Linked DNA regions of Homo sapiens. The protein of the gene in region 1 interacts with the protein of each later gene in a pairwise test. Each region holds a gene or a part of one and is shown on either strand. Other genes may lie near its edges.

The links.
Region 2: the proteins of DRD2 (region 1) and RTN1 interact in a two-hybrid assay, tested with the Homo sapiens proteins (one large-scale study listed by BioGRID and IntAct).

The regions. Positions count from the first base shown.
Region 1 is NC_000011.10:113,416,399-113,419,898, forward strand, and holds part of DRD2 (D(2) dopamine receptor), read right to left. Parts: intron 1,739-3,500; coding exon 1,629-1,738; intron 602-1,628; coding exon 465-601; intron 1-464. UniProt on the Homo sapiens protein: Dopamine receptor whose activity is mediated by G proteins which inhibit adenylyl cyclase. Positively regulates postnatal regression of retinal hyaloid vessels via suppression of VEGFR2/KDR activity, downstream of OPN5.
Region 2 is NC_000014.9:59,864,277-59,867,776, reverse strand, and holds part of RTN1 (reticulon-1), read left to right. Parts: intron 1-3,500. UniProt on the Homo sapiens protein: Inhibits amyloid precursor protein processing, probably by blocking BACE1 activity.

The sequences.
Region 1 (3,500 bases):
GCTTTCCTGCTCCAGGTGGCTAAGGCCTGACCTGGGTTTAGCAGGCCCTGAGGGCTGCAGCTTCATTACAAAAATACTATTGTCAGGAGTGGATGGAAGCCCAGTAGCCTCCGCCATCCCATGTTCATGTGCACATATACACACATGCAGTTTGTGAAGCACGTCTTGCCTCTTCAACTTAATAACCAAAGTTGAAAATTCCCAGACATACCCCTGAACCATTATCCCCACTCCTCATCCAACTCCGTTGTGTCCTGGGCCACTGTTTCCTCTCTGCCAACCTAGAACAACTCTTGAGTGGGGCTTGGCCCAGGACACGTAGCCTGGACTCAGTCCAGGGTAGTGATAGGCCTCCATTGGGCCTCCACCCATATCTGTGCCAGGGACTCTGCTCCCTCAGGGCCCTTCGAGGGAGCAGGGGCCCAGGGCCAGCTGAGCCTCAGGCAAACAAAAGCAGAATGTACCTGCGTTATTGAGTCCGAAGAGGAGTGGGCAGGAGATGGTGAAGGACAGGACCCAGACGATGGAGATCATGACGGTGACCCGGCGCTTGGAGCTGTAGCGCGTATTGTACAGCATGGGCATGGCCACAGCTGTGTACCTGCAAGGGCGGGGGACCCTGAATCTGGGGTGCAGGCCCAGGGACCCCTCACTCCACAATATGCACACACCAGAGACACCCTCACTCCTTGGGGCTAAACAGTTGACACACCTCTATGAAGCTTGCCTGAGATGCTAACTCAACCCTCCCTCCTGTCCCCAAACTCAGATGGCGAGGACAGTTGGCAAAGCCCAAACACTTAATCACTGGTGAGCTATTGTTTACTCTTAGCTCATATCTATTATTCTAACCGGCCCCACCTGGATTTCAGGCTTTTCGAAGAACCATGGCCTGCATCTTTGCACTTTTGAAACTGTACCCACTGCACTTGTGTTGAGCCCATAAGGTGGAAATGTTTGTTGATAAATTGTTAGCCAGGCCCCTCAGAGCAAGATTTAAGCCTTAGTTAGCAGGAAATAACAATGGCAATTGTCTACAATCCTTCATCACATTTTTTTTTTTACCCAGCCCTTCTCATTCATTAACTTATTTCATCTTCCAAGAATGGTGTGAGGGAGGTAGGGTCATATCTGTGCAAATTAGTGGAAGGCTCCAAGGATGCAGCTTAGCAAGGTGTGCATGGCCTGGGACCCTTGGCCATGTGCCAAGGACATAAAATGCATAACCAGATACTGCAGCTCCAGGCCACAGGTGTCATCAATGTAGGTTTCTAGAAAATGAAACTGAGAGCTCTGAAAACGTCCATCATCTGCCCAAGGTCACATGAGTAAGATGTGCTAGAGCTAGGGCTTCCGTCAGAATCACAATCTTTCCCCTTTTGTACCAGTCACTGTCTGAGTATGCTTGGCAGCATCACTGTCCATAGATGGCTTCTCTTTAGGGAGTGTGTGCTCTCCTAGCCAAACATACACACATGCACACCCATACACACAAACACATGGACCCCCATGCACACAGCCAGCTGCACAGCATCACAGACACGAGACACAGCCTGGCTTTGAGAAAAGCTGGGGCAGCCAGAATGGTGAGTGGCCAGAGCAACCTCTTCCACCCTGGCTGGGCTCACCTGTCGATGCTGATGGCACACAAGTTCAGGATGCTCGCCGTGCACATCATGACGTCCAGAGTGACGAAGATGTCACAGTGAATCCTGCTGAATTTCCACTCACCTACCACCTGGGGACAAAGCAACATAATGGATGGACAGCAGGAGTGGGAGATTAGCTTAGGTCCTGTAGCCTGGTACTCCTGGAGCCGATGAGGCCACAGACTCAGGAGGCAGCTGCAAGTCTTGTGGGCATCCAGCTGGGGTGTGGGGAGTGATGCCCATGGGTGTCTGAGGCCCTTGCCCCTCGCTTATCTTCTCCCAGATACATAAGACCACTTATTGCCAATTACTGTGCTAGAAGAAAGACAGCCAACTTATACGGAGGGCCTCAACTTTAAACCTTAATCTCTGCAACCTTTGTTAACCCCATGTGTTTTCTTAGATTCTGTATTTGTGTATTTGGCACCCATTCATCACAGAGACACCTATATTGACTATATTTTTCTATCTTCTCTGATCCTGATATTCTGGCACTTGGGAGCCTCACAGACCCAGAGAGAGACTTACTGTCCCAGAGCTAGTTAATTCCTGAAGACAGAAAATGACTGACTTGGAAGGATGCCTCTCAAATGCAAGCCAGCCACCCCGTTTCTCTAATTCACACACACACCAAGACAATATTTCCCCTGTCCCAAATTATCTCAGGTACCAGAGAGACAACTAGAGATCACCCCTGTAGCCCAAAGCCTGCCAGGATGTTGAGACTAGCCAACCCTAGGTTGCTTAATCTGCCCTGCCTTGCACTTCCTGTGGGAGCCCCAACAGGGCTGTAGCCTGGGCTTTCCCTCACCCCTGATTCTGACTCTTGACCCAAGCCTGCTGCTTCCCCCTGCACCCCACATGGCGGGCTGAGCATCTGGTTTCTAGGGACATTGTGTATCACGTTAAACTCTTCCCAATGGCACTGGCTTCCCTGTGTTATCACTCAGCCATACCTCTGTAAATTAGATTCCAGGTAAAATTTTAGAATGCCCGTGAGGAAACTGAGAACCAATGAGGAAACCAAGCCTCCAAAAAGTGCAGTGATTTCCCCAAGGCCTGTGGGCTCAGTTCCTAGTCCTGCTCTGGCCCAGGCTCTGGCTGAGCCAGGCAAGCCCTTCAGTGGTTGGCCCAGTACATGGCAGAGTCGGGGCCCCAAAATGATCTGTTAAGAATAATGGTGAAGATGAAGACTCGCCATGAAACAGAGAAGAAATTTCTGCTCCTTCTTATACCCAGAGAACGAAAGAAGGCAGATCTGGGCTAGTGCTCGAGGAACACCCGAGTGGGCTGGGGTAGGCGGAGGGGTTGCTGTGATGAGCTGTGTCCTTGGTAGGATGGGAAATGAAGAGTCTAGCTCCTGGCAGGAGCACGTTTCTCATACACACATGCACACAGGCACACACACACACACACACACACACATGAACGCACCGCCCTCCCCCCTCCCCACGTAACACCCATTCACACACAGGCACACACTCATGGCAGATTACGCAGGCACACACTCACGGCAGCTGTCCCTAGCGCTCTGGAAGCTTGGAGCAGCCCCAGTTCCCTGAGGATGGAGTCAGGACAGGGAGATGCACCTTTGGCTTCTACCAATAGGAGCAGAGAGGAGCGTGAAAGCCCCCTCCCGCAACCCGGAGTAGGGCAGACTTCGTGTCACCGTGTAGCTTGGCAGCAGGGCTAATTATAACCTTGCTCATTCTGATCACTGCCCTCTCTTCTGCTCCTAGGCATCCAACCAAATGCTGGCATTTAAGCTCAATGATGGGCAATGCAGCTGCTGTCATCCTGTGTGGCAGAAACAGCAGCTTGCCCCAGAACACAGCAAGCCTCTCATGCGGC
Region 2 (3,500 bases), on another chromosome or scaffold:
TGATGCACTGTAAACAGATTTTGTTTCTTTTTTAGATGGAAATATAAGACAGATATTGATGTTTTAATAACTGTTTTTCTGAAAAACATCACCAATCATGCCATCTGGACAGATATTCTGTTATTTATTTTTATACATTGATGGTAATTAAAATTATCCCAGGAACATTTCCAAAAATATGTCTCAGCAGTGTCCTGGAATGAATATAAGTTTAAACATTATTAAAACTGCACCATAAAACTCCATCAATCCTCTATTTTCAGGTGTTCTCATTGCTTCTGTCCCTTTTGTGGCGTGGAAATAGTCTCATCAAAATAACACTGTCTTCTAAAGTTACAACTTCATGTCTAAACTGATAATGGACATGTGAAATTATGTGTGTTGACAAGGGAACATTTAATACACCGTAGGTAGGCTACGACATGTTAGCGTTGTTAATCATAAAAGTGCCATCATCTAATAACTTTATACAAAGAATGTTAAGAGCAACTGTTCTGTTTTTTCATGATCAGTTATTTTATTACTGGAAACTATTCAAAAGGAGCATACAATAACAAAAGGAAAAAAGAATGGTCCTTTGTTTAAAGAAAGAATTTTAAATAGAACATCTGAACAAAATGAAATAGAGGTTAACTCATTGCCTGCTTTGGAAATTAACTCATTGACTGCTTAATATATGGAAAGCAAAATCAAGAACATGATGGAGAATGGTCAGGAAAAATCAGTCCAATATGATTTGCTGCAGTGATATCAATTTATAAATAATTTGACTTAAATTTCAAGATAATTACAAAAAGCATTTTCCAATTTACTTTACATGGACCATATTGTTTATATGTCCTCATTTTTCAAATGCTAAATGTGATGCTGTATTGGAAAAACATCTTCTAAATTCCATTTGGAGGCTAGATTAACTGTCTTCACTTTTGGATGTGTTTGACAGATGTGTAGACATTTTTTATTTGGAGTCATTTCCAGGTAATCCCCTTCAGAAGGTATAAATTTCCATCTTCTTTCTTTTGAGAAAGCTACAGTTCTATTGAAATGGTAAGGAACATTACACTGTGCCATTACTATCTTTAAAGAAACATATAAGATGAATAAAAGAGTTTGGAAAACTAATGCAATTTATTTCTGTGGGCATATCCTCTGGATACAATCAATACCATTTCTGGAAGTAAGTACAATATATGTTCTTTAATATAGGGAATTCAAATTAGGTTAAATTAAATTTAGGATGCTTACATACTTTTAAAATACATTGATAAATATTATAAAGGCTTTCAGGTTAACTTTCCCTTCATGAACTTACTGTTCCAAGAAAACCACCCTGCTCATTGCCCTGCTCATAGGCTCTCCTCTCTCCATCTCTTTTTTACTTCTGATTCTGAGGGTTGAGAGAAGCATTATTGGTTATCTTGCCCATTTTATTGTCTATCCCTGGGAGCATGGATTGCAAGGATTACAGAAAGCTTTTATTATCTTTTGTAAAGTGAGAAACCATTGCGGTTCAATTCAACTTAGTAGACTTATGTTAAATGCCTCCTTTGTGTAAGGATCTGTGCTAAACACAGGTCAGTCATGACTTCCTAAAACATGTGCACCTTTCTGATTCACAGTATTTAATTTAGCCAAATAGTTCCTTTTGTGTTATTTTTCATTTTCTTCATTCCCAAGTTATTGCTGGAAGCTTGACTAGAAGGGAATTATAATAATCTAACCCCATGGGCACAAGGGTATGAGTTAGTTTTCTGAGATCAACACAGGATAAGTAAATATGAGCACAGCTTGCTCAGACTGTGAAAGACAAAATCTGTCTTTTTGTCTAGCTGTGAAAAACAAAATCTTTCTCTCCCTTTATTTCTATCATCTATCTCATTCTCTACATCTTCAAAGAAATAACTGGCTAAATGTTACATCAAGATCTTTGGATTAGTTAGTTGTGATTTTATTCAACAATTAGATTATTTCAGTGGTGACTAAGGGAGTTTTGAAAACGATGCTGGAAAATTTAGAGGGCAGTGAAAATAAAAGACATTTCAAGAGACAAACGTATCTACATAGGAATGCTCTAGGCTAAAGTCATTGTAAAGAACATGGTCCAAAAATGAAAGACAACCAGTTTTGTTTGGTTAAATAATATTTGAGGGCAAAGAGAACAGTGAGAAGAGTGTGAGCCAGAGAGGCCCACTGTTTGTGGAAGATGCTGTAGTGATAGGGTATGAGAAAAGGGAGGGAAGGGCTTCTCAATTCTTATTTGAGCTCCCTAATTTAAAATGGACAGTGATTCTTAAGTTGGAAAATTGAAACATACAGAAAGAGATACTGGGATCCCAGGATAAGTAAACAGAAGGTAAAATCTTGTATTACTACTTTGATGAGATCAGTTCTTCACATCCAACTACTTTACATCTCATGGAATTGAATGAGTGTGCTGAGCAGCTTTAAATTCATTCCCAGTATCTTTGGAGAATAAGACTAGGGCTAGAAAAGCTGAAATTGATAAGTGATTTTCAAAAAGGGGAAAATGGTGGATTCTTAAAACTTATAAACCAATATATTTGACACTGACTGCTGGTAGAATCTAAGAATGTGTTATTATGCTAAATATTCATAGACCCTTAGAAAAGAATGAATATATTGTTCAGAAATTCCCTCTAGTTCACTAAAAAATAATGCCTGTACAACATTATTTCCCTCTTTTTCAGATTTTGAATTACCAACATGTATGTAGCCCTTCCTATGTCTAGGAACTCTGCAAAACGCTCAACTGACATAAAGATATAGAAAGCATGCTCTTTAATTTATAAACTGCACAAAATTTCAAAGGATGGCTGATATGCTACAGGGTAGCATTGCGATGAAAAAAATCTTGATTTTAATGTTTATTCAAAAGCAACAAGATAAATCTGTTTATTAAAATTATTTTTGTCCCGATTTAAAAATTGGGGGTGGGTAGAAAATACATACACATGGTATTAAAATCTAAAAGGTACAAAAGGGTAAGTAGAGAAAAGGAAGTCTTCACACCTTACCTTTCAACAATCCATTGCCCCTCTCCAGAGGTAACCATTGTAATTAGTTTTAGCAAGAGAGCATTACTTATGATTATACTACTATTTATTGAACTCTTGCTATATGTCAGGCTTTGTCTAAGCACTGAGGATTATAGTACAGAAAAGGACAGATAAAAGCCTCTCATCCATAAACTATACTTTTTTTTTCTTGGTGGGGGCAAGGGGAGAGAGTAAGGAAGGGCAACAGAGACCAGAACATCTATATCAAGGGATGATTAAGTATTGTGAAAAAGGTCAAAACAGAGTAATGGGAATGAGAGGGATAGTCAAAGAAGACCTCTTTGATAAGGTATCTTTAAAGCACAGACTTGAAGGAAGTGACACAACAGTCTTGCAGATGTCTGAGAGAAGAACATTTTGGGCAGAGGGAATTTCCTTTGCAAAGGCCCTGGGTGGGAGTGTGCCTAGCACATTGAAGGAACC